Linked DNA regions of Homo sapiens. The protein of the gene in region 4 purifies or fractionates together with the protein of the main gene of each other region. This does not show direct contact. Each region holds a gene or a part of one and is shown on either strand. Other genes may lie near its edges.

Region 1 (3,500 bases), on a different chromosome or scaffold from region 4:
TTGTTCCACATTCTGCCTGGAGCCAAAAGACACAATTAAGCCACCACATAGGATGTGTGTCTCCCTGATCATGTCACAGTCCTCCAAAATGCCAAGCTTGGCCCTGTCCCTGGACCTTTGTAAGTGTCACCATCTCATCTGCAAAGAACTTCCTGTCCGCTTCACTCTCCAAGTATTACTTTTTTTTTTTTTTTGAAGCAAGGTCTCACTCTGTCACCCAGGCTGGAGTGCAGTGGCACAATCATGGCTCACTGCAGCCTCGACCTCCAGGGCTCAAGTGATCCTCCCACCTCAGCCTCCTGTGTAGCTGGGACTACAGGCATGCACCACCATGACTGGCTAATTTGTTTTTATTTTTTATAAAGATGAGGTCCCACTATGTTGCACAGGCTAGGTATTACCTATTATTAAAGCCTGGCTCAAATCATCCCCTCTGCAGAAGTCTTCTCTCTACTCCTCCTTTGGACTTTTATAGACTGGAGACTAGACCACTCACTTAACATGAACCAGATTCTGCCCCACAGTGATCTGTATTGGTAATTGTGTATCTATGCGTGTTACTGAAAGATAGAGAGAGAGAGAGAAACAGAGAGCTCTGGTTTTTTCGTTTGTTTGTTTGGTTGGTTTTGAGACGGAACTTTGCTCTTGTCTCCCAGGCTAGGGTACAATGGTGCGATCTCAGCTCACTGCAACCTCCTCCACCCAGGTTCAAGTGATTCTCCTACCTCAGCCTCCCGAGTACCTGGGATTACAGGCGCCTGCCACCACACCTAGCTAATTTTTTTTTTTTTTTGAGACGGAGTCTCGCTCTGTCACCCAGGCTGGAGCGCAGTGGCGCGATCTCAGCTCACTGCAAGCTCCGCCTCTCCGGTTCACGCCATTCTCCTGCCTCAGCCTCTCTGAGTAGCTGGGACTACAGGCGCCCGCCACCACGCCCGGCTAATTTTTTGTGTTTTTAGTAGAGACGGGGTTTCACCATGGTCTCGATCTCCTTACCTCGTGATCCACCCACCTCGGCCTCCCAAAGTGCTGGGATTACAAGCGTGAGCCACCGCACCCGGCCACGCCCGGCTAATTTTTTTGTATTTTTAGGAGAGACAGGGTTTCGCCATGTTGGTCCGGCTGGTCTCGAACTCCTGACCTCAGGTGATCCACCTGCCTCGGCCTCCGAAAGTGCTGGGATTACAGGCATGAGCCTTCCCCTGTAGTAACTAGCACAATGCCTGATGCTTAAAAGGTTCTCAGTAAGAGTTTGACAAATGGATGGATGAATGAATGGACAGACATTTTTACATTTATAAGGACAAGGACCATGTCTCACACCTTTTTATATCTCCCTGATGTACTTGGAATCATACCATATTCCTAACTTGTGTTCTCTAAGCACACCTATGCGTATGCACACACCATAAACACACACACACACACACCCCATCCGTGCATTCAGTCATGAGAAGCAATACTCACAACAATCTTGCCCCCAGGCCCCTGGCTCCGAACACTGACTCCCAACCACTGGTTCTCCTTGCTTTCCTTTTGCATATCAGCTAGAGGCAGGACACTGGGAATTAGGGGAGGGAAGAGGAGCCCAAGTCCTCTCCTCCCCGCTCACACGCTTCCCCCACTCTGTTCATGCAGGGCCACACCTCCCTGGTCGATGTCCACTCTGTAGCAGTCAGTCTCCTCCAGGCTCAACGGGCAAGCGAAGAGGCCTCCAGTGCGATTCGCCTGCTGCCCAGGAAGAGCCAGGGCCTGGGGAGCACCCACCAGCAGCCTGCAAGATGGGGCAGGGGCAGGGACAGGGACAGGAGTTAGAGGTCAGAATGACCCAATCTCATTAGAGCTGCCCAGGCCCAACCCCTCAGTACTAAAGAGAGTGTTCAAGGACTAAAGAGAAGGGGCAAATGTCAGTTTTCTCAAACCCTGGCAAGGACAAATTAATATGCTTGGTCATGCAGTCATCACGTTGCATGTACATACTATCTGGATAAGGGATCAACATACACAGTAGATACACACACACACACACACACACACATACACGCCAACCCAAGCAGCCAGGCCAACAGTGCTGGTTTGAAAGAACTGCCTGTTCCCAGCACCTGTTCCTGAGTAGGCCTTCCCTATCCCCTCCTTGGCCCCATCCCCAAGCTCTGCCCTGCTCCCCAACCCAGTCCAGTTGAAACCCAGCCAGAAATGCCAAGAATGCTGGGAGCAAAAGTAACAGGGCCCCAGACTGGCATCAGAGTGTGGCTCAGGGACCAGCTTCAGAGGCCAGGCAAGAGGCTAGATACGGACCCACTGCCCCCTCATCAGGGACCCAGCAAAGACCCCACCTCCCAGAAGCTGTGCCAGCCCAGGATTCCATCAGTCACTCTGGCTGGCATGGAGGTAGGGACAAGTTTCTCCTTCTGCCTCCAATGCTACCCCATTCTCTTCCCGACATCCTGAATCCCCTTCCCCATCCTTCCTTCTCCCCATGTCCATGATTTCTCCTTCCCTTCCACCCCCACCCAGTCTTCTCTCCTGCCTCCCCCTCAGCCTCTTTCCCAGCTACAACTTTCTTGGCAGGACAATTTTCCATGATCACAGCCAAGCCGTCTTCCCCAGGGGAGCACAGTGCTGGGAATGGAGGCTGCCTGGGTCCCCTGGGGCTGAACCCCCAAGCCAGAGTGAAGGCGGGGGTGAGGTAAGATGACTGACACCCAGCTGGCTCCATGGGTCCTCTCTTTGCAGAAGGAGAGACTCAGAAGTGGCAGTGGGACAAACCTCAACGCCTCTCTCCCACACTCTTCTCCTCCATCTCCCTTCCTGGGGGGCAAGGCCCAAAACCATGTTAGGCAGTATTACAGACAGGCATCTGTGGGGCACTGTGCCAGCTCTGATGGGGTGGAGGGGGAGGGCAGAGAGCCATTCTTCCTTCCCACAACTCCTCCTCATCTCTTAGCAGCTGCCATCCCTTGTCAGAGCCAGTGTCAAGACAGAGAAGGGGTATAGGGAGTAGTAGAGAAGAGAAGACACATTTGGCATTCAACTACTTATTGAGAGTCTATTGTATGCCAAGCCCTGTGTCAGGCGCTGGTGAGACAAGGAAATCATATTTATTCAGCACCTACTATGACGTCAGATCCGAGGCTAGACACCAGGGATATAAGAAACTAACATTCATCACTGTCCACATATGTGCCAAGCACCAGGATAGGCAAGTCACATGCATTATGTCATTTAATCATCAGAACAATCCTATGAGATAAGGATTCTTTTCTTGTCTTTCAGATGAGAAAACTCACTCAAAGACATTAAGCAGTGATGCTGGAATTCAAATCCACATGGGCCTAACTCCAACACTTTGTCACTCCACCCAGTGACTGACCTGTCTCTAGAACACTGAGACCACCCCAGAAAGGGAAGGAGAGAGTGGGGAGATGAGGGTACCCTGGGCAGAAAAGGAAACGGGGTGATACAGCCCTGCATAAATAAATGGCAACCTTCAGGCAAGT
Region 2 (3,500 bases), on a different chromosome or scaffold from region 4:
TTCTGTATCAACTGACTCAGGGAGCTCCAAGAGGGGGCAAATTTCCCCAAGTTAGGACTCCACGTTGTTGGCTGATGCAATGGAGAATAAATTAATGAGCTGAGGAGACAAAGACCTACTATAAACGCTCAGGAGAATGACCTGACCTCGTCACATCCAAATAGTGGGCAGAATGGTGACATTTTCGCGTGCCCAGGGCTCAGGATGAGAGCTGCTATAGCCTTGCGGCACCTAGCAGAATTTGCCTTAAAACTAAAACTGGTTGTTAGAATGATCCATGGAGGTCTGCTTTCTCTCCCAGAACCCCATGACCTTGGGCCTCTACTTCTCCCAGACCATTAACACCCTCTGCTGGAAAGGCCCAAGACCTTGGGAGCCAAGTGCCCCAGCCCACACTCCTGCTGGCTCACATGCCAGCACAGCGGTAACACACGGCTGGGAATGAAGCGCTTTCTTTTTTAAGTGGCTAATTGCATCCTTTCATAAATAAAGATGAGAAAAACCCTGGGCAGACTCTCATTCCAGCTGCTTGGTGTGCTGTGCCTCATTAACTCGAGCCCTTGCTGTACTCGGAGAGGTGGTTGTGTGCTTTACCTCAATGGACTGGGATATGTGCATTTTATTAATTTCAATCTGCGGAAAGCTACTGCCGGACACATCTTCATACTCCTCATCATAGCGATCAAAAAGGTCGGTGGCATCTACTCCAACGCTGATCGTTCCCTGGGGCAGAAAAACAAGCCGTCAGCAGAACGGGTGGTATTTGTGGAATGAAAGACAATGCTACACTTCAACAGCCAGCTCGCTTTAATTGAACAAGTCATTTGACTTCAGGGTTCACTGGGTTTAGGTAGGACACTCCACCAGGAAGCCCACAAAGCATGAATGTCACAGTCCGAACCAAACTGCAGAGCACCACAGACGTCCAGAGCTAGAAAACATCATTTGACCAGGAGAGCCGGTCCGCATGTCTGCAGAGCAATGACACGCCAAAGACAAAAGTGTTAGTCAAAGGAGTAAGAGCTAGACAGTTTGATTTTCAGAGACCAAACAGGACCCAAGAATGCACAAAACCACCTAGAAATGAGCTACATGGATTAAACATTTTTTGGTAAACAACCTTATACCACAAAACTACCCTAAAACTCTTTAAATAAAAATACCTTCAAAGATAAAGCAGCACAAATTATGAACAAATGGGAGACTTTAAAATTAATCCACCTTCTCAAATTAATGAGAATTAAGTTTGAGAAACAGAACACTGTATTTGCTCAAGGAATTCTAAGCTAAAATTTTGCTGATAAAAATGCTTGTTACTCAGAAAATCAATGTTTATTATTCTTTGATAGTCACAACTTTAAAAACGGACATTATCTTAATCCAGTATATAAAACCATGGCCACACACATTTTTTTAACTAAACTTTTTGCAGCCCATTGAAACAATGTTTTTTTGCTAGCTTTTCTTTTTTTTTTTTTTTTGAGATGGAGTCTCGCTCTGTCACCAGGCAACATTAGCCATTAGTCCAGTGCAGTGCAGTGGCACGATCTTGGCTCACTGCAACCTCCGCCTCCTGGGTTCAAGCGATTCTCCTGCCTTAGTCTCCCGAGTAGCTGGGACTACAGGCGCACGCCACCATGCCCAGTTAATTTTTGTATTTTTAGTAGAGACAGGGTTTCACCATGTTGACCAGGATGGTCTCGATCTCTTGACCTCATGATCCACTCGCCTCGGCCTCCCAAAGTGCTGAGATTACAGGTGTGAGCCACCGCGCCCAGCTGGTGCTAGCTTTCTATCAGATGCTTCAATCTGAAAATGCATTAACCCTAATAATTACTTGATTTCTGTTGAGGGTGAAACACCTGACATTATGAATGCTACTATAAACTCAATCAAAAAGTTCCACATTAAAGGTAAACGTGTTTGTTTTTGCGGTGATATTCAAATACCAACTTGGAGGCAGTATAGTGTTATGGTAAAAAATTTTCTTATTAAATCAAGAAACCCATGGACTAGAAACATCCTTAGAATTAGTTGTAGTGATACGCATAATGCATAATTGTGTCAAAACAAGCTGTGGTATTCTACCCATGGAAAATGAAGTTGTAGTTGCCAAAATTTACAAATTTTTTATATTCACAGAGTAACAGCATGAACACATCTCTGTCATGATGATGATTCTGAATAATCAACAAAACTGCATGGCAGTATATGAACAATCTGTGGCCAGGTGTGGTGGCTAATACCCGTAATCCCAACACTTTGGGAGGCTGAGGGAGTGGGATCACCTGAGGTCAGGAGTTCGAGACCAGCCTGGCCAACGTGGTAGAAACCCTGTTGCTACTAAAAATACAAAAATTAGCCAGGTACACGTCCCAGCTACTCTAGAGGCTGAGGCAGGAGAACTGCTTGAACCTGAAAGGTGGAGGTTTCAGTGAGCCAAGATTGCGCCACTGCACTCCAGCATGGGTGACAGAGCAAGACTCTGTCTCAAAAACAAGAACAGGCCGGGTGTGGTGGCTCATGCCTGTAATCCCAGCACTTTGGGAGGCCGAGGCAGGCGGCTCACGAAGTCAGGAGTTTGAGACCAACATGACCAACATGGTGAAACCCCATCTCTACTAAAAATACAAAAATTAGCCGGGCGTGGTGGTGCGCACCTATAATCCCAGCTCCTCAGGAGGCTGAGGCAGGAGAATTGCTTCAACTTGTGAGGCAGAGGTTGCAGTGAGCCAAGATTGTGCCACTGCACTCCAGCCTGGGCAACAGAACAAGACTCCGTCTAAAAAAAAAAAAAAAAAAAAAATTACAATCACTGAAAATAAAGCTTGTAATGAAAAATAATCTGAAGCTGATCTTTTTAGGGGGAAAAAAACCATACAAAATAAATAAGAGTTTATGAGATATAATGAGATACAATTTTGAAATTCCATAACGGCATTTTGGAGTATCTTTATTTTGTGTAGGAATCTTGGTGGAGCTGTCATGTTTAATTAGGTAAATTTATATTCTGTTCAAGAATGAAATGGAATTGAAAAGGTCTACAGTTTTATAGCATCTAAATTTGATAAAACATTCAAAAGATCATAAATAAAGATGATTTAGAAAAATGTGTCAAAGAAAACTGTTGTGAATAAAGTTAAAAAGACAATACCTGTCAAAATACTTGGGCCAAGATATTTTTATGTTCTAATATGAAGAAATTTAGAATTGAGAGAATATTTTCTAAATTAAAAATATGATATACAGAGATGAATCAATTAAATGTGTCAAAAATTTCAGCTGAGTGCTGTGGCTCACTCCTGCAATCCCAGTACTTTGGGAGGCTGAGGTGGAGGGATTGCTTGAGCCCAGGAGTTCGAGACCAGCCTAGGCAACATGTTGAGACTCTGTCTCCACAAAAAAAACTAAAACCAAAAAAAAAAAAAAAAAGTTTAGCTGGGAGTGGTGGTATCCGCCTGTGGTCCCAGTCACCTAGGAGACTGGGAGGATTCCACTGG
Region 3 (3,500 bases), about 80 Mb from region 4:
TGGCGTGATCATGGCTCACTGCAGCCTCAAACTCCTGGGCTAAAGCAATCCTCCTGCCTCAACCTCCCAGGGTAGCTGAGACTACAGGCACATGCCATTATACCTGGCTAATTTTTTTAAAAAAAAGGTTAGTAGAAATGAGGTCTCATTGTGTTTCCCAGGCTAATCACTTATTTTTGATGTGATACAAGGTGAATGTGGGGATTGGTAGGAAATATGATTGAAAAACAGAAACAATAGGAAGGACCTTGTATATCAAGCCAGAACACTTGAGGCAATGAGGGAAACTGGAGGTATTAAAATTAGTTGGAGGGAATCAGAAAAGACAATCAGTAGACACTAATATCAAGAGGTATCTGAGGTTAGGTATTATTAGATGATGTTAGAGCAACCATCATAAAAATGATTCAACAAGCAATTCTGAACACATTTGAAACAAACGAAAAAGCAGGAAGTCTCTGCAAAGAAACAGAAGATACAAATAAAAAAACATGGAAATTTTAGAACTGAAAAATATAATAAATGAAATAAACTCAATGTTGGGCAGCAGAACGAATGTAACAGAGGAAGGAATCAATCAACTAGAAGATGAAACAAAGGACATTACCCAATCTTAACAGAGACAAAATATACTGGAAAAGAAGTGAACAGAGCCTCAAAGACCTTGTGAAATGATAATAAAAGATAAAATGTAGATGTCATAGAATTATGGCAGATTTCCGTCAGAAACCATGGAGGTCAGAAGGAAGTGGCATGGCATTTTTCAGGTGCTGAAAGAAAGAAAACTGTCTACCTAGAATCCTATTTCTAGGAAAATATCCTGCAAGAATGAAGAGAAAATTAATACACTCTCAGATGAAGACAAACTAAGAGAATTTGTCTCACTAGACTTACCTTAAAAGAATGGCTAAATAAAGTTCTTGAAAAAAAAAAACAGTAAAAGAAATCTTAGAAGATCAGAAGGAGAAAAGAACAGAAAGAATAAAAACATGGGCACATACAACAGACTTTGCTTTTCTTAGTTTTCTAAATTATGTTTGATGGTTGAAGCAAAAATTATAACATTATCTGATGAAGTTTTCTATGTCTGCAGAAGAATAGTTAAGAAAATTATAAATACGGAAGGGTAAAGGAATATAAAAGAAATAAGAATTCTTTTTTTTTTTCTGCATCCAATCATCCATTAGGGAAATAAAGATTCTATACTTCATTTAATCTGCAAGATGTTGAAATCAGTAGATTGTAATAAGTTATATACGTAAGATGTAATAACCAGAGCAACTACTAAATATCTATGCAACGAGATATATTAAAAAGTAACATCAAAATGAAATACCAAAAAATTGTTTCAGTAACCACAGGAAGACAGGAACTTTGATACAAGCAACAATTTGGATGGATCCAAGTTGAGGGCATTATGCTCTGTGAAAAAAGCCAGTTAAAAAGTCACATACAGATCGAGACCATCCTGGCTAAACACAGTGAAACCCCATCTCTACTAAAAATACAAAAAAAAATTAGCTGGGCTTGGTGGCGGGTGCCTGTAGTCCCACCTACTCAGGAGGCTGAGGCAGGAGAATGGCGTGAACCCGGGAGGCAGAGCTTGCAATGAGCCAAGATTGAGCCACTGCACTCCAGCCTGGGCAACAGAGCAAGACTCCGTCTCAAAAAAAAAAAAAAAAAAAAAGTCACATACTGTATGACTATCTATATAACATCCTCAAAATGACAAAATTATGGAGATGGAGAAGAGATTACTCACTGCCAGGGGTTAGGGACAGTCCGGGTAGGGGGAGGGCAGTGTGACTATACAGGGTAGCATGAGGAAAAGTGATAAAACAGTTTTGTGTCTTTTTGTTTTGTTTTTTTTGAGATGGAGTCTCGCTGCAACGCCCAGGCTGGAGTGCAATGGCATGACCTCAGCTCACTGCAACCTCCACTTCCTGGGTTCAAGCGATTCTGCTGCCTCAGCCTCCCGAGTAGCTGGGACTACAGGCACGCGCCACCACACCCAGCTAATTTTTGTATTTTTAGTAGAGACAGCGTTTTACCATATTGGCCAGGCAGGTCTCGAACTCTTGACCTCAAGTGATCTGCCCACCTCTAGCCTCACAAAGTGCTGGGGTTACAGGCATGAGCCACCGCACCTGGCACAGTTTTGTGTCTTGATCATGTGGTTGCATGGATCTATAGATGTGGCAAAATGTCACAGAACTATGTGCACACATTGTACTAATGTCAATTTTCTGTTTTCTATGCTCTTTCCCCATGTGGTCTACCTCCATCACTACAGCTTTTTTTTTTTTTTTTTTTTTGAGACGGAGTCTCACTCTGTCATCCAGGCTGGAGTGCACTGGCTCGACCTTGGCTCACTGCAACCTCCACCTCCTGGGTTCAAGTGATTCTCCTGCCTCAGCCTCTCGAGTAGCTCGGACTATAGGAGAATGCCACCATGCCTGGCTAATTTTTGTATTTTTAGTAGAGACAGGGTTTCGCCATGTTGGCCAGGCTGGTCTCAAACTCCCAACCTCAGGTGATCCATCCGCCTCAGCCTCCCAAAGTGCTGGGATTTCTTAATACACGTCTCTTTTCCCGACTTTGCTTCTGCCCTTCTAAATGCCTGCATGACGGAGCTAATTGGATATCTTGTTGCTACTCTAATCTCAGCATATCTTAGATTTAGTCTGTCACCTCCCCTCTCTGACCTCTCATTATTGTTTTTCCACCTTTCTACTTGTCACCTCCAGGCAAACATCAGTCATCCTTTATTCTTTCTTCTCCATGGCCTCTTATTACCCATCACTTGATTTGTCTTACATGATTCTTTCTTAAATTTATTTCTATTCTCACTGTCACCATGACAGATCAGAAGCAGTCATGAACTCTTGCTTGAAACTTGACAAGAACTTACTGATGGACCATTAGGCTTCCAAACTCTCATCTTATTCACCAACCTTATCTAGTCTGTAGAGCTAATATCAGAAGATCCTTTGACACAAAAAATTGAAGTGACTGTACAGAGGACAAGAAGGGGAAATATAAAGAGATTTGAATGGAAGTCAAACAAGATATTTCTCTGCAAGCAGTTAAACATATTCAACTTATAGGCGACAACGTGTCTTTTTCTCTCATTAGAAGTGCAAAATACGTACCTTAACTCTTCGGCCAATGCTAAGGAATTGACACGTTTTATCGTAAAGTCCTTCCAGGTTTTCTCTGTCCCAGTAGAAATCAGGAGTAATCAGGAAGTCTGAACTCAAGTTTATACGGTGCCTTTAAAAAGGAAAATTATAACTTTTTATTTATCTTGAATTAAAAATCATTGTTTCTATTGTATTTAATATTTACATAGTGCTTTATGAAAACTTTTTTTTTTTTGGTAAGAGAGAGGGTCTTGCTATGTTACCCGGGATGGAGTGCAGTGGTGTGATCACAACTCACTGCAAACTGAACTCCTGGGCTCAAGCTGTTCTCCTGCCTCAGCCTCCCATGTAGCTGGA
Region 4 (3,500 bases):
CTATCTCTGCCACATAACAGCTACATGACATTTTCAAGTTACTTCCTAGTGCTTCTGTTAAAAACGGGGATACTGATTATATAGATCAGAGGTAAACAACTATATTACCGTCAGGTTGCATTTGTTTAAGTCCTCTGTACTCACCAAGGGACTGCGTCCATAACTAAATATTAGCATTAGTATTAAAACAGCAAACAAACAGAGACAGTACTATTACCTACCTCAGGGTGTTATGAAGATTAAATAATACACGTAAAACCCTAAGGGTACTTCTTTGCCTATAGTAAATGCTCAATTTATGTCAACTATATTTTGCTTGTATCCATGATATAGGGTATTAACATTTATTTAAAATTGTATGCAAAAATTACCAGGCATGAACAACAAATTATCTTAGTTTTATTTCTGTGCTTTGGAGATGTATTCTAAACCTACCTATGCATCTATCTATGTACTGGTATAACAATTTTATTTGTATTTTGGTGGGAGAATTTGAGCTCCATGCAAAACTTAAATTTCATGCTTCACAAGCACTGTGAATCAAATATATATGTGTTAACTTACACAGGCTGAATATTCCAGAGTCCAAAACATTTAAATAGACATATCTGTACAATATTGAATTCTGTGCAAAAAACAATGACGACAACAAAAAACCTACCACTACTTGAATACCACCTGAAATAGTTAATAAATAAGACCATTGACTTTGGATTTTCTATTTTGCTTTTGCAGCATGCCTTAAAAGCAATTACTATTCCATTACTGTTCACACAAGAGAAAATTTACCAGCTTGTAATTTAGAGGCAAGCAGAGTAGACAGAAAAAAGGGAGCCACCCACAATGGTTTCCAAGAAGCAGCAACAGCCTAAATGTTTAAAAGATACAACATTCATTGCACCAAGCAATAATCCGAACATGTTTTCATGTCTATTCACGAGACAGAATCATCAGTGAAAAGTAGGTTGAGAGAGGAAGAATGATGGAAAAAGACAATAGGAAGAGGCAGAAGGGAGAACATCTTTAGGCCCAAATTGTTATTTCTGGTCCATTAAAATATCAACATCCAAATGAAAACTACTGGTCTCCAAAGAAAACTCTTATCAAAAACGAACCATAATTCAAATACTGTACACCCAGGGAGAATAAAGAAAACCTAACATTTATAGCCTAAGAAAATTGGCTGTAGTTTCATATATACATTTCTATAAAATTCTCACATTTTATCAGACCTATGGCATGACTCTTAATAGCTTTCAGAGGGAAAGAAATAAAATACAAGGGGCACATTTCAGGTAAAATGGTCTTTTAATGTTCCACCCAAGAAAATCTTCTAGGTTCCTTCACTTTAAAAAGAATTACCCTAAATAAAGTAAATGTACCAAGGGTAAAAGGTAAATCTCATGTTTCCTTTCAGGAAACATAAATAGAAGTACTATTTAGGGGGGAAAGGGCCAAACATTGTAAACTCGTATATCCTTCAGATTATGACTCCAATAAGCAGCAGGTAAAGAGGGAAAGCACACAAATACTTCTGAAAAAAAAGCAAGACAGAATTAATCCTCAAAACTCCTTTATCTGCCTAGTACACAAATAGCTGAATAGCACCCAACAAAAGATTCAAGCAAGGGGCTTCTTTAGTTCATTGCTTTCCAGAAACATCTTCTAGATGCAATCTCAGTCACTGACTCCTTTGATAACCCCTTAAGTGTCTGAGAGCCAGCCTGTCTTCCAGTCTTATTTCATTAACTTCAAAATTTCTAAAGTTTTTTTTTTTCTTGCTTGGAAAGTGCTATTTTTTTTTAGTATTTCAATTCAATTGATTTCCAGAGGTGAAACCAACTTCACCTGAAAAGCATCTGTTTTAAATTTAAGAAAGCTTTGAAGGTTTTCTGGTGAAAAACAGAAATCTGATCAATAGTGTTATTGAAAACATGACTAAAAATAAAGTCACATTTATCTGTAGTTGTGGCTTTTATTAAAGCAGCTTAAATCCTTTGCAAGTAAGCTTTTCCAGAGAGGGAGATGGATAGGATGCACAGGGAGGCAGGATTACCTGTGATCCACAGTGCAAAACCCCATCAATGCCACAGGAAGAAGAGGAGTAGCTGTTGAGATTTTTGAAACCTGAAAAACCCCACCACCTCCTTCTCCAATGAACAGGCCCATTTCTGTAGCTAAGATTCACACTAAACTTCATTTGCAAATGGATTTGGCTGTTAACATAAGAGTATTCAATGCAAATATTTCTTTCCTGGCAATGCAGATCAGTTGAAAGGAAAGGCTGAAAATTAGTTAGCTGTATGAGATGACAAAGCACCATTCCAGTTACCAGGGAGGAATAATTGAACACAGATTGCCTGTTGCGTCTTTAATTTAATTTGGAGACCTTTCATCCTTTGCTTTCCTTCATTTGCAGCCAATACTTACGGAGCTAATTTGTACGTGGTTCATTTTCCTCCTTTTATCTTATCCACTTTAACATCAACCATGGAAATTAGAAGCACCATGAATAAAAGATGAAACCTGACTTGGGGTATTCTTTCCTTAAGTACTGTGAATTACTGAAAAACTAATTGGTGTGCATGCACAATATAAAGGGCTGAGATATATGCCTCAGCCCTATAGCATTCCTAATCAGCATCTTTGCTTTCCCCCAAGGAGCTGTAGATTTTCAATGTTTTATCTGGTCCTACGTTTTCTCCAGAGAACAATGTCTAAACTATAATTTACACGGAATCATTAATCTGAGAACGGGTGTATGGTAGGCTGTCTCACAAATAAACCTACGGATTTCCAAATTCTGGAAAATGCACAAGACTAAGAATTCATAAATTCCACTAGCCTAATGATGGAATTCAATAATGTTTGCCATGCATGGAAAATGTTATAATAAAGAAAACTGAATGTATCAGCATACATATATGTCAAACAAAGGCCTAATCTGTCCAAAAACAATGCTGGTGGGGGAGTGGTAGAGAAAGGTACTAGTCATAAAATTACTGTCTGGGAGTGACCTCCAGGAGATAGAAAACTTAAATTCTAAGTATGTCATGCCTATTATGCTTAAAATGACAACAGAAACAATAAACCTGTTGTATTTTTTGTATATGTGGCACCTCACCATTAAAAAATGTTGCATATGCTCTTATTTTATTTTATTGCATTACTTCCAATTGTACAAAAGTTTAGTGTCTTGAAAGTTTTGCGTTTTTCCTTTATAATGTCCTCTCTGACAACACTATTTTTTTCTCCTTACCCTCTCCTCATTTTATATTTTCCCCCATATGGACTAATGAAAAACCTACTGGAATTTTCTCCTGATGCTTAATATCCCCCACCAACAAACCCTCCTTTCAGTTTGGGAAGCATCAAAGGAAGGCTGTGTCCTGAATCATTTCACTGCCTGCGTGTGCCAATTCTTCTAACACCTCACACCAAGAGGCTAGAAGCTCGGAATAAACTAAATCATTCCTCCTTCACAATCTAGCCTCCTACAG
Region 5 (4,122 bases), on a different chromosome or scaffold from region 4:
GATGGCCATGCAAGGAGATCCCAACCCTGGGGCAGGTGGTGTCTCTGGGGCCGTGGGTGGGTGGAACAGAAATGACACCCTAATTAGGGACCAGGAGCTGGGGCACACCCTGGCCAGGAGGGGGACCAGTGTTCTCATGAACTGACCTCAGAAGTAATGTCTACTCAGCTGCTCCCCTGCGTAGGAAAAGTGTTTTGTAGATCTGAGAACCGCTATAGGTAGCTCAGGGTACCCCAGTGAAGGAGTGTAACCGCGAGGACCTCTGGGCTCCCTGCCAGCCCACAGCTGCTGATGCTGGGACTGCAACTTGGAGAAAGGGGCGAGCAGGTGAACAAAACTTCCTACTCCTGGCAAATTTCTGAGCTGCTGGGACTAGAAAATTTCATAGTCTGAGGCTGAGTCATGGAGTGGCTCCAAAGCGGCTAGAGGCTAGGCTGTGGGCGGCTCTGGGGCATGGAGGAGGCAACATTGACCCTTCTCGCGCTGCAGAGAGACAAAAGGACCACCACCACGATTTTATTCTTAAATAAAGCTCAGTCTAAGGCCAGGTTAGGTGTACAGGTAGGTGAAAGGGGAGGAAGTGCAGATCCCGGGCACTTCCACTGTGGGTGAGTGGGCCAGCCCAGGGGAGGTGGGGCAGCTGAGAAAGGCAAGCAGGTACACAGGGCAGGAGGGGACGATGGAACCACTGGAGTCATTCTGCATGTGCTGGGAAGGTGCAGAAAGAACCTGGACCCCACGTTCTCTGTGGGTGGTGCCAAAAAGCTCAGCATGGTCCCGAGCCCCAAGAGTCCCCTGCCCGGACTCCCCCTGTCCAGCTCAGTGCAGCATCAAGCAGGCAGTGATGGCTGCCTGCTGCCATTAAGTCTCCCAACAAGATCTCAGGTTGAGGGGCGGCAAGGAGAGCCACATGCCTGCCACCCACGCTTTCCACACAGCCATGCTCAGGCCTCCGGGCACTGCAGGCCTGCAGGGGCCTCCCCGCCTGGGATCTGAGGTGCTCTCCAGGTGCGAGCTGGGCTCCTGAGCATTGCAGGTGCCGGCCCCCCGGGGCTTCAGGATACCGGGCTGCTGACTGGAGGAAAACGGGAGGAGGGCAGAGGTCTTCATGCTTCCTTCCCACGGCCAGGCTCAGTGCTGGTGCTCAGGCTCCGACTTCCCCAGGAATTCCCTAGACCACAGGACAATCAGGAGCCAATCATTTGAGCTCAGACCAAAGATCCTTCTCCACAGTCCTCACACTGCTATCTAAGGAAGCAGAGGCTGTGCAGAGAGGAGGCAGCCAAGAGCCCCATGAGGATGCGCTGTAGCCCAGAGCAGCACTCAGTGAGTTAGGCAGGGAACAAGCAGTGTGGTGCCAAGTCAAAGCCCAACACACAGGCATGGAGACAAGGTCTCTGATTCTTGACCCTCAACTTCAGAGCTATTCTCTGGTCTAAATTTTCTACACATATCTTCCTTTTATAATGGGGAAAATTATAACCGCAAAGCAAACCCATACTCTGAGCCCACTGCCCCCTTAGCAACCCAGGTACCTGTGCTAAAGGGACACAGTTTTGCCTCTGGAACTTCCAAAGGCAACTGGAGAAAAGCAGAAGTTTGCAGTAGAATTACTCACGGGATATACAGCACTGGGAGGCAATTCAGGCCACCAATTTCAGTCCCCTGCAGGGAGAAACTGGCACCTTGACCTACTTTTTGGAGCTGACTGGCACAACACAACAAAAAACTCTATCACCATTAGCAGCAGCCCCTCCGTGGGTCCAGTGCTTAGGGTCGAAGTACCACATGCCCTCCTCGGCTCAGAAGCCTTGTCCCATGCACAGGGAGGGTTAGCATCTTGCCCAAGGCCACACAGCCAGGCAGTGGGGTGGGGGCCTGTGTCCTCTGACAGGCAGGTAGGCGAGTCTGGGCAGCAACCTGCATAGGGCCCAGGGCAGTACAGAGGAGGCCGGGGGTTGGTCCATTCCACACACTGCCCTTGTCACTACTGCCAAGGCCTCACCCTCAGGCTTGGGCTCTGCACTCAGGCCCAGGTGGGTACTCATGGCTCTCTGGGCTGGCGCCCATGTCCTGCCAGTGCAGGGCAGTCAGGAGCACCACGTCCCTTCAAGAAGCAGCTGGGGACAAAGAGGCTTTTGAGGAGCTGTGTACGTCTTGAGAGGTGTGTGGAAGAGATCCGAGGCCTGCAAGTGGCTGGGGTGTCTGTGTCTGAGTGTTCCCAAACATGGCCACCTGTGAGCGTGTGTGCCCCCCCGTGTGGGTCTGTACATCCTTTACAACATGGAGGCGGCTCACCCTGCATGATCATGTGAACAGTCCTGGAGCAGGAGAGAGGCACTCCCTCAAACCCCTCTGCCAAGGAAATGGAAGGCTCCCAAATCACTGTGACTCTTGGCCCCACTGAGGCCCCCTGAGCAGCTTCAGCAGCTGCCACCTGCTGCACGTTAGGTGTGAGCCAGTGCTGCCCAGACGAAGCCCCTGGGTGGGAAGAGAATGTCTCACCTCAGTATCCGTGGCAGCTCAGGGCTCTTGTAAATGTATTTGTGCCTGTAGCCAAGGTCTGAATGAAAGGGCACAAACTGAACTTTGAAATCTCGGAAGCTTCGAGCTGGTGCGGCGATGCTATAGAGCTGGGGAGAGAGGGGTCAGAGCCTGAGGCAGTGGCCTGGCATGGGGGTCCCAGCCTGAGGAACACCAGCTTGGCAGCCTCCCCTTCAATAGAAACCAGTCCAGAGTCCCACATACACTGCTTGTTGCCACAGCCGGTCACGACCAGGAGGCCCGGGGGTGGGCTGGGAGGAGCCAGGCCCCAGGCTTGGCTCCTGGGCACACACCACTCAAGATACTGTCCTCACACCTTATAGACTACCCTTCCTCTGGGGAGTGGCTAGGTGGATGAGCCAGACCAGGTGCCTGGGAGGCTCTGATGGCAGGGATGGCACAGTCTTGGGGAGCTGGGACAAAAGGTATGTGCCTCAGGCTTAGCTAAGATGGGCTTGATGTACCCATCTCAGCCCCCTCCCCCTCTCATTTCGGCAAGGGTAGGTGGGCCTGAGCTGTGCGCTGCTGGGCGGCTCTGCATTCTGCCCCTGCCCTGTGTGGCTCCGTCATCTGTGTGCCTTATGGAGCCTGACTGCATGGGGGCTGTCAGAGCAGGAAGTGCTCCCAGCCCTGGGCTGAATCCGTGGACGAGGCCTGCACACACCCAACTAGTTTGCCCTGCCATTACCAAGACCCAGGCTGCCTTCTCTTACCCTACTCTGAGCCACAAATCCAATCCAACTTGCTGACAGTCAAAGCAAATTCAGCAAAAGCAAACACTGAGGCCCCACAGACAGCATGGTCTGGTTCTGGTATCAGCGCAATTCCAAAGGCAAGGAAACAGGCTAGAAGTTTCTCTATCAATTTTGACTGTGACCCCTGCAATGGGCTTGGGAGATCCTCATCAAGGGGTTCTTTGCCTTCAGCCCATAACTGATGAGCCCTTCCAGCTGAGTTCCCAGGTTGGCCTGGGCTCTGATAACATAGGCAGCCCACTCTGATAACCCCTGTGTGAGGACTGGGAACTATCTGCTTATTTTTCATATTCTTGGAGACAGCATCAGTGGGCCCCTGCCCCAACCTTTACACCAGACCTCCCATGTCCTTCCGAAGCAGCCTGGAGGTGACGCAGGGAGGATGAGGTGGCCTCCTGAGCCTGACGTGGCTGGTGCGCAGCCCGTGATGCAGCATGCAGGGGCTGCCTTCCCGCCTGCCCACTCCCAGCCTGGTCCACCCACACTGGCTGAGTGTGCAAGATGCCAGCTACACCAGAGGCAGAGGCCAGGACCCACCTTTCTGCCAAGCTGGAAGGGCACCACCGGGTCGTCCTCAGCGTGCAGGATGAGCAGGGGACAGGAGATGTGCTTCACGCTGTAGGAGGGAGAAGGGGCTAGACCAAGACCAGGGAAAGGGCAGAGTTGCCCAGACCCTCTGTCCATGGCAGGGATCTGGGTTCAGGGTGTGTTTTGGGAAACAGCCTGATTTCTGCTGGATTTCTTTTTACTAGACAACTGAAAGTTAACTCTTCATTATCTCTATGAACATCTATTACAGCTAGATGACAGGTGTCAATCACAG
Region 6 (3,500 bases), on a different chromosome or scaffold from region 4:
TGGGGCTGTCTGGTGATTCTGTAGATCAATTCTGTAGGCCCACTGTCCTGGTCAGTGGCAGACAGCTGCAGGGTGGTGATTTTCTTCACTGAGTTTTCATCCAAGACCAGTCCTTTATTGGTGGTGATGACTGGTGGGGATTTGTCTTCTGAAAATATCAGAAATAGTGATTTGAAATGGGATCTTCTCAGCCTCCTTTCTTTAATTCTAGGCCTGGTGCCAAGAAGTAAGGTCAGAGTCATCTCTAGGCCTGTGTGTTAGAGAGCACACCAAGGAGCCAGGGCTTCGTGCAATAAAGGGGGTATGATTTTCAGTTTCCACACCAGCTAGGTAAAGGGAAGGACTCGAGCCTCGAGGTGAACAAAGTGTAAACTATATAACCTCAGAACTGCTAAAATAGTTTTATATTAGAAAATCAAATGTCTCTTTACCTAGAATGCTGATGGAAAATGACTTGTCAATCAATCTGTTGCCTTCTCCATCAACCACATCAAATTTAAAAGCAAAGCTCCCTCCAGGTTCTCCTGTTCCATGACTATATTCTACGTGGCCTATAAAAAGGAAAAAAAATCAAGATTTGCTATTAGTGCTTTCTGCCCTTATTTCTGAAGCAAGAGGTGTGAATTCAATTGGTGTTCACACCAATGAATCAGTTCACACCTTCCTCGCTTTGACACTGCTTTTGACATTTTAATCTAAAGTTTTCATTTCCTCCTTTTCCTCTCCCACCATCTACTTTCTCATAACCAAAGACCTTCTCATAACAAAATCACCCCAAGTGACATTTCTCATGGTTAAGGCTGAGCCTTTTTGGAAGATCAGCTCAGCCTCTAAGGACACCTCATGAAAACGAGATCCACAAAACTGCCCATGTGTAAATGTGCACTGACCACACCCACATCACCTGGAGTGACCCTATTATATATTGGAATCACAAGGGCAAGAAGACACAGAGCTGCACCTCACATTCTCCCAGAACTCTTCACTTTTCATTGCCCAGTTCACGGAGCAACATGGGCTATAGCCAACCAACAAATAAACTCCACATAGAACTCAAAAGGATCTAAAAGGAGAAGTACAACAAAAATGTATTACATTTTTGTTAACCTACAGCATCACTTAAAAGCATCTTTCAATTTGGTTGTGTAAATATAACCAAATCTCTGGGAAGAGGGGGCTGGTCTTATCTTTTAAAAGTAGACACCGACATATGAAATAATTAAGGAATTACTTTCCTTTTGCCTCTTCCACTCCCCTTCACTAAAGCACAGCCAGTTCCAATGAGAATTCAGCTGTTGTCAATTTTAGGTGTTAGTGTGTGGGCGGGACACTTGTTTTTTATCCGCAGGGGTATATTTCCACTTCTAAACAGAATTGCACATAATCACAAGACTGTGGATTACGTTTTCCCCAATATATAACTTTTTTTCCCTTTTGTATCCCTGAAAGCACTGTACAGTAACTACGTAGCATTTAACATTTATGCCTTTACATTACATCAGCATTTCCTGATGGAGGGATGTGCCATGTAATTTCCCCTAGGCAGCTCCGATTTATGCCCTTCCATTTTGCTTAGTTCATTAACTTGTGCTCTTTGGGGAGCTGAAAAGAGATATAAATTGCTCACCTAAGGAAGGCATAATTTTCACCTTAATCCATCCCAACTCACTTCTTTTTTCCTTCTCTCTCTCTCATATATACTTTTTAGCATCACAGCAAGTCAAAATAACTTTTTCTCTCCAAAATAGCTGCAAATGCCACCAATGCTAAGTCAAAGCATGAACACATTTCAACCAAGAAAGATAGGGCTTTTTTAAAAACAAAAAGAAAAAAAAAATAAGAAAACAAGGAAGAGAACAAATGAAGCTCCTCAAAACAAAGAGTGCACAGTTTATTGCCATAGACTACCAGATATTTAATTCTCATTTTACTAGTGTAGGTGCAGTCCACGGAAGCCTGGTAGGCAGAAGAGAACTGGCTGACCTTGGCTAATGTCTGCCTGGGTGAAACTTCGGATGGGGCCTTTAATAGAAATTTGCTCCAGGTTGCCATGCTTCATCATCTGCAGGCGCCCTGCACCAGGATCTTCCTTCATGATGTACATAACCTGATGGTCATCTGAGTCAATATCTGTCACTTTCAAGTGCTGTTCTGTGATGCGTGCTACAGACCCTTGGAAGAGAACGGAAGAGAGTAGGTTATTCCCCAACATTTCCTTTGAACGGGATGTCAAATGATTTTAGGAGACTGGAGGCTAAATTATCACATATTCATTGGATCTAGGTACCAGGCACTTGCCCTTCTCAGTTTCCAGCTGAATAAATTATAATTTCCCTAGTGAAAGAGTACCGACATTTCAATTTACTAATTTTCCCTTGAGTCAACACCTAAGCACTTTTTTCCTTCTGATCCATTTTCATTCTCTCCTATGCTCCTCCGACTCAGTGACCTACCAGTTAATACCTAGATCTGTGGAATAACTCCCAGTTCTGTGACAAAAATAACTCCTAGATCTATGATGAAACCTGCTTGGATTTAGTTTACTTACTGTCTTGAGAATCACCAAATCAGAAAAATATAGCTTTACATAAACTCAAACATATCTTGTTGCCATGTCAGACAAAGTAGTGAAAATCAGCATCCTTCAGGACAGAGGATGTTAGGAGCAAGGAGATCTGAGCCTCTGGGCCCTGGACACTGCGCAGGTGTTGGGGATGAAGATAAGGCCCTGGCTAATGGCAAACTCCTCTTCTCAGGGTCTTGTCACTTGCTTTATTACCCAGCCGCTTTATCATGTTAAAAATAGTAAATCCCGGTAAAGTAGAGCCTAGTTATTCATGCATAATACATCCTGGTGTTTGGAGTGACATGTTCTTAGTGGGTAATACCAAGAACACAAGACCCTGACCATGCTTTACCCAGGCCGTTTCTCAGAGAGCAACCTTGAGGGATGAGGTAATGTCTTCCTCTCAGACAAAAATAAGACTTGCATTCTGCTGCTGTAACATGGAGAATTCCCCAAGCTCAGTATTCCCCTCTGTGATGCATCCTACTGCACACGAAAGTGTCTGTCTGGGCCCTCTACATCACCCCTATGGGACTGGGATGGCAGAGGGAGCCGATGCAAACCTGCTGATGCCCATGCTGCCTGCTGTGCTATAAGTAACAAGAGTGCCGTATTTCTGATGGAGGAATCTTGTATCTTCTACCAGCATCCATGAAACAGTAACAGGATAGTTTATTAGCTTATAAGTAGGATAAAGTCAAATCTCAGACTTGATATTTAAGACCTTTGAGAACTACCAAGTTTTCCAATACTATTATACCATACATTTTTCACTGCAAAATACACATGAAACTAAGAACAAACAAACAACAGAACTCTAGTAAGATGCAGACACCCTGGGCAAAAGGTCCACTTCTTAATTAAGTAACTTCCTACTGCAAACTGTTCAAGACTCACACTTGTCACAGGTCCTCCAATGTTGCTTAAACATGAG
Region 7 (3,500 bases), on a different chromosome or scaffold from region 4:
ATTAAAATTCACATAACTTGCAAGCACAGAAAAATTTGATGTCAATCTCTAATAAATGCAACTTCAAGTTTTACTGCCAATTCAGGGGAGAAATTTTAAAACTCTAATGCACCAAAAATTTATTCTACTAACAGCAGAATGACTTTACTTTTAAAATTTATCAGTAATCAAGTGGAAAAGCTGTGACCACAATGCTACAGATCTTAATTAGTGGTCAATTTTCTAAAGGTGCTTAAGATTATGGCAAGTCATCATGCCTACCATATAAATGAATGTAACCATTATACTACCATTATAGCACTGAGTCCCATAACACTTTTAAAAATCATAATTCAAACTAATAATAGATACATCTTATCAAGTATTATCCTAAGTACGTTTTGTCCGTAGATTTTGTCACTTAATACAACAGTCCTGCAAGTATGGCATCACCCCTATTTTATGTTTTTGAGACAGAGTCTCACTCTGTCACCCAGGCTGGAGTGCAGTGGCATGATCTCGGCTCACTGCAACTTCTGCCTCCCAGGTTCAAGTGATTCTCGTGCCTCAGTTTCCCGAGTAGCTGGGATTACAGGTATGCGCCACCATGACCAGCTAATTTTTGTATTTTTAGTAGAGACGGGGTTTTGTCATGTTGGCCAGGCTGTTCTCAAACTCGTGACCTCAGGTGATCCATGTGCCTCAGCCTCCCAAAGTGCTGGGATTTACAGGCCTGAGTCACCGCACCCAGCCACCCCCCATTTTCAAGATGAGGAAATTTAGAACATCACCCAATGCAAACCAAAATTTATTTATTTCATTTATTCACTTAATAAATTTAACTGAACACCATTAGAATCCAACTCTGACTCCAACACCCCATGTTTTCGCATATTACAAAAAAGTTTACATGAGTTATCTGAAACAAGCCCAAAACAATCTGGAAGAAGAAAAGATTATTCTTCAGATTTATAGGTTGGGAGCTTCCTCTCTGGCTATCCTGGTATTCTTTTCAGTAACTATTCTAGGAAGAAGAAAATAAAGAATAACTCATTGTTGGCCTTTTCCGCCTCAGTCAGGCCCTAAAATTTTGTTTAAAGTAAATCACGAATTTTTTTTTAAAGTAAATCAACAGCCATTTTACGTGAAGCACACATTTCCTTACTCAGCTAATTGCAGAAAATGTCATTCATCATTTTCAAATGGAAGAAAGTAGAGGAAGACTATGGCTTGCAGATTTAAAACACTCTGGCAAAGTATCTGTATTAAAAAGCATCTAATAAAATACTGAATGGGCCTTTCCCTTCACTTAAAAACTTAAGGGTTTTGGCTGGGCGCGGTGGCTCACGCCTGTAATCCCAGCACTTTGGGAGGACGAAGCGGGCGGATCACGAGGTCAAGAGTTCGAGCGGCCTGGCCAACATGGTGAAACCCCGTCACTACTAAAAATACAAAAATTAGCTGGGCGTCGTGGCACGCACCTGTAGTCCTAGCTGCTCGGGAGGCTGAAGCAGGAGAATCGCTTGAACCTGGGAGGCAGGGGTTGCAGTGAGCCGAGACTGCACCACTGCACTCCAGCCTGGGTGACAGAGCAAGACACCGTTTAAAAAAAAAAAAAAAAACTTGAGGGTTTTTGTTGAACTCTGCCTGTCAAACAATGAGGGAGGTGGGTCACAGCATGAAGATTCAGAAATTCTAGAAGTTCTCCCTTTTAGTCCCTAGCTTTAATATTCCAATTCTTTTGCTAACCTTGAGTGATATATCAGTCCAATAAATTCGGTTGTCTGTCACATCAAAATCCAAAGCAGAAGCTTCTTTGACACCAGTGAGTGGAATAGCCACATTATTATTGTTTGTTTCCAGAGAAATTCGTCTGATATCTGCTCTCCGTGAAAACAAAAGGAAAGCCTCTGGGACAATGCAGGTCTTCATGTCACTGATGAGTTCAAAGCCAATAGGGCAAGCACAGCGAAGGCCCTGAGGTCTATAGAGGCAGAGATGGCTACATCCCCCGTTTTCCTCAGCACAGGGGTTGGAACCTAAAAGATTAATTATAAAAGGGGCACAGAAGGACACACACATTGATACATTCAACATATTTTCACTTTTAAATTACTTAAGCGTTTGGTTCACAAATGCCTATGATTATGTCTTGCTCCCAATCTCAAGTTTCAATTCTAATATCACAAACAAGTAATATGCAGATTAATAGGGAGTAAAAGCATGGTGAAGTATTTTCCTTTAATACCACAGTAAGCTTTAAAGTAAGGTATATTATTCATACTATCAGACTGAATTCTTTTGATGAAGGTGTGCCTGTGCATGTGTATTCAGCCCTTCAATTCAAACTGGGTAGCTAGAGTAGTAAGTCAACGTTTAAAAGGTCCCTTCTCAGTAAAAAAAAAAAAAAAAAAAAAAAAAAAAAAAAAAAAGGCGGGGGGGCAGTAAAGAAGGTTTCAAAATTGCCTCAAAACATCAATAATTTACACTGCTGACTATCTCCATCTTTTTTCATTCCTGGTTCCCATTTCTAAGAAAGCTTTGGAGTTACTCACCAATCACTCGATGAACATTTGTAGCCTTTAGGCCCATGAGGTCAGGCAGCTGATCTATGATCACTTCCCTCTCTGCACTTCGTTTATGAACTCTTTCAATGCTACGCCTCTGCCAGTCAGTCCAGTAAACATAGTCACCCAACAAAGTAAATCCAAATATGTGAGGAATTTTGTCTTCCACTAGTACTCGTCTCCCAGTGCCATCAGTATTCATAACCTTCAGGTTTAAATTCAAAAGAGAAGGGGATGAATTATGCATTTATTCTTCAGCTAAAAATAACAAATCCAACTGCCTGTTGTATAAAAATCCAAGAGTCATCTTGGTATTCCTATTACAATGCTTTCTCAAAATTACATGATGATTTTATAAAAATGATTTCAAATTTTCCATATAAGCCTCTATTTGACCACTTTTCCCCCCAATCTCATATTACTCTTCCTTCTAAAAATTCTGGCAACTTTAGATTATGCAACTCTTCTATTAAACAATTGTGGCAAAATTAAAAATACAGTATCATCACCTTAAGTTTGCACATTTGTTTTCAAATTATAATGTACCTTCATATACATTATTTTATCATATATTTTGTTTTATAACATCTTTTATTTTATCTTGAGAGCTTTGCCTATGGAAACTGAGATTCATGTAAGGTCACAGAGCTTGTAAACACAGTTGATGTCTTTTTCAGGACTTTTTCCACTTAGCATGCTTTTTATTTTGTTGTTGTTGTCAGTAACAACAAAAAACAGATAAAAGGGATCTCAATAAATCTCTCATTCCTCTGAGATTATAATCACAAAAGTATCGGGATTATATGACACCCTCTCTGCATCTAAGTTTCAAGAAACTAGGATGTACCTTCTCTTTCCAACTACCTAATAGTAACATTATTAAATTCACTCTGGCATTCATACTGTATTCACAGTGCATTCACCATGCACTATTCAGTGTTGACTTACTTGGGA

Evidence for each region.
Region 1: the proteins of B3GAT2 (region 4) and ITGA7 purify together in Homo sapiens (affinity purification with mass spectrometry; one large-scale study listed by BioGRID and IntAct). This does not show direct contact.
Region 2: the proteins of B3GAT2 (region 4) and DNAJC11 purify together in Homo sapiens (affinity purification with mass spectrometry; one large-scale study listed by BioGRID and IntAct). This does not show direct contact.
Region 3: the proteins of B3GAT2 (region 4) and RMND1 purify together in Homo sapiens (affinity purification with mass spectrometry; one large-scale study listed by BioGRID and IntAct). This does not show direct contact.
Region 5: the proteins of B3GAT2 (region 4) and ABHD12 purify together in Homo sapiens (affinity purification with mass spectrometry; one large-scale study listed by BioGRID and IntAct). This does not show direct contact.
Region 6: the proteins of B3GAT2 (region 4) and FRAS1 purify together in Homo sapiens (affinity purification with mass spectrometry; one large-scale study listed by BioGRID and IntAct). This does not show direct contact.
Region 7: the proteins of B3GAT2 (region 4) and LRP6 purify together in Homo sapiens (affinity purification with mass spectrometry; one large-scale study listed by BioGRID and IntAct). This does not show direct contact.

What each region holds. Positions count from the first base shown.
Region 1 is NC_000012.12:55,701,405-55,704,904, forward strand, and holds part of ITGA7 (integrin alpha-7 isoform 2 precursor), read right to left. Parts: intron 1,775-3,500; coding exon 1,647-1,774; intron 1,548-1,646; coding exon 1,468-1,547; intron 17-1,467; exon of another isoform or gene 13-16; coding exon of another isoform or gene 1-12. UniProt on the Homo sapiens protein: Integrin alpha-7/beta-1 is the primary laminin receptor on skeletal myoblasts and adult myofibers.
Region 2 is NC_000001.11:6,653,317-6,656,816, forward strand, and holds part of DNAJC11 (dnaJ homolog subfamily C member 11), read right to left. Parts: intron 724-3,500; coding exon 595-723; intron 1-594.
Region 3 is NC_000006.12:151,414,127-151,417,626, forward strand, and holds part of RMND1 (required for meiotic nuclear division protein 1 homolog), read right to left. Parts: intron 3,274-3,500; coding exon 3,153-3,273; intron 3,146-3,152; exon of another isoform or gene 2,955-3,145; intron 1,423-2,954; exon of another isoform or gene 1,292-1,422; intron 1-1,291. UniProt on the Homo sapiens protein: Required for mitochondrial translation, possibly by coordinating the assembly or maintenance of the mitochondrial ribosome.
Region 4 is NC_000006.12:70,950,561-70,954,060, forward strand, and holds part of B3GAT2 (galactosylgalactosylxylosylprotein 3-beta-glucuronosyltransferase 2 precursor), read right to left. Parts: intron 1-3,500. UniProt on the Homo sapiens protein: Involved in the biosynthesis of L2/HNK-1 carbohydrate epitope on both glycolipids and glycoproteins.
Region 5 is NC_000020.11:25,299,714-25,303,835, forward strand, and holds the end of ABHD12 (lysophosphatidylserine lipase ABHD12), read right to left. Parts: intron 3,916-4,122; coding exon 3,837-3,915; coding exon of another isoform or gene 3,585-3,836; exon of another isoform or gene 2,634-3,584; coding exon 2,506-2,633; intron 1,666-2,505; coding exon of another isoform or gene 1,644-1,665; exon of another isoform or gene 1,619-1,643; intron 1,172-1,618; coding exon 1,132-1,171; 3' UTR 501-1,131; downstream 1-500.
Region 6 is NC_000004.12:78,448,823-78,452,322, reverse strand, and holds part of FRAS1 (extracellular matrix organizing protein FRAS1 isoform 1 precursor), read right to left. Parts: intron 2,173-3,500; coding exon 1,984-2,172; intron 552-1,983; coding exon 432-551; intron 149-431; coding exon 1-148. UniProt on the Homo sapiens protein: Involved in extracellular matrix organization. Required for the regulation of epidermal-basement membrane adhesion responsible for proper organogenesis during embryonic development. Involved in brain organization and function.
Region 7 is NC_000012.12:12,162,545-12,166,044, forward strand, and holds part of LRP6 (low-density lipoprotein receptor-related protein 6 isoform b precursor), read right to left. Parts: intron 2,752-3,500; coding exon 2,535-2,751; intron 2,019-2,534; coding exon 1,729-2,018; intron 1-1,728. UniProt on the Homo sapiens protein: Component of the Wnt-Fzd-LRP5-LRP6 complex that triggers beta-catenin signaling through inducing aggregation of receptor-ligand complexes into ribosome-sized signalosomes.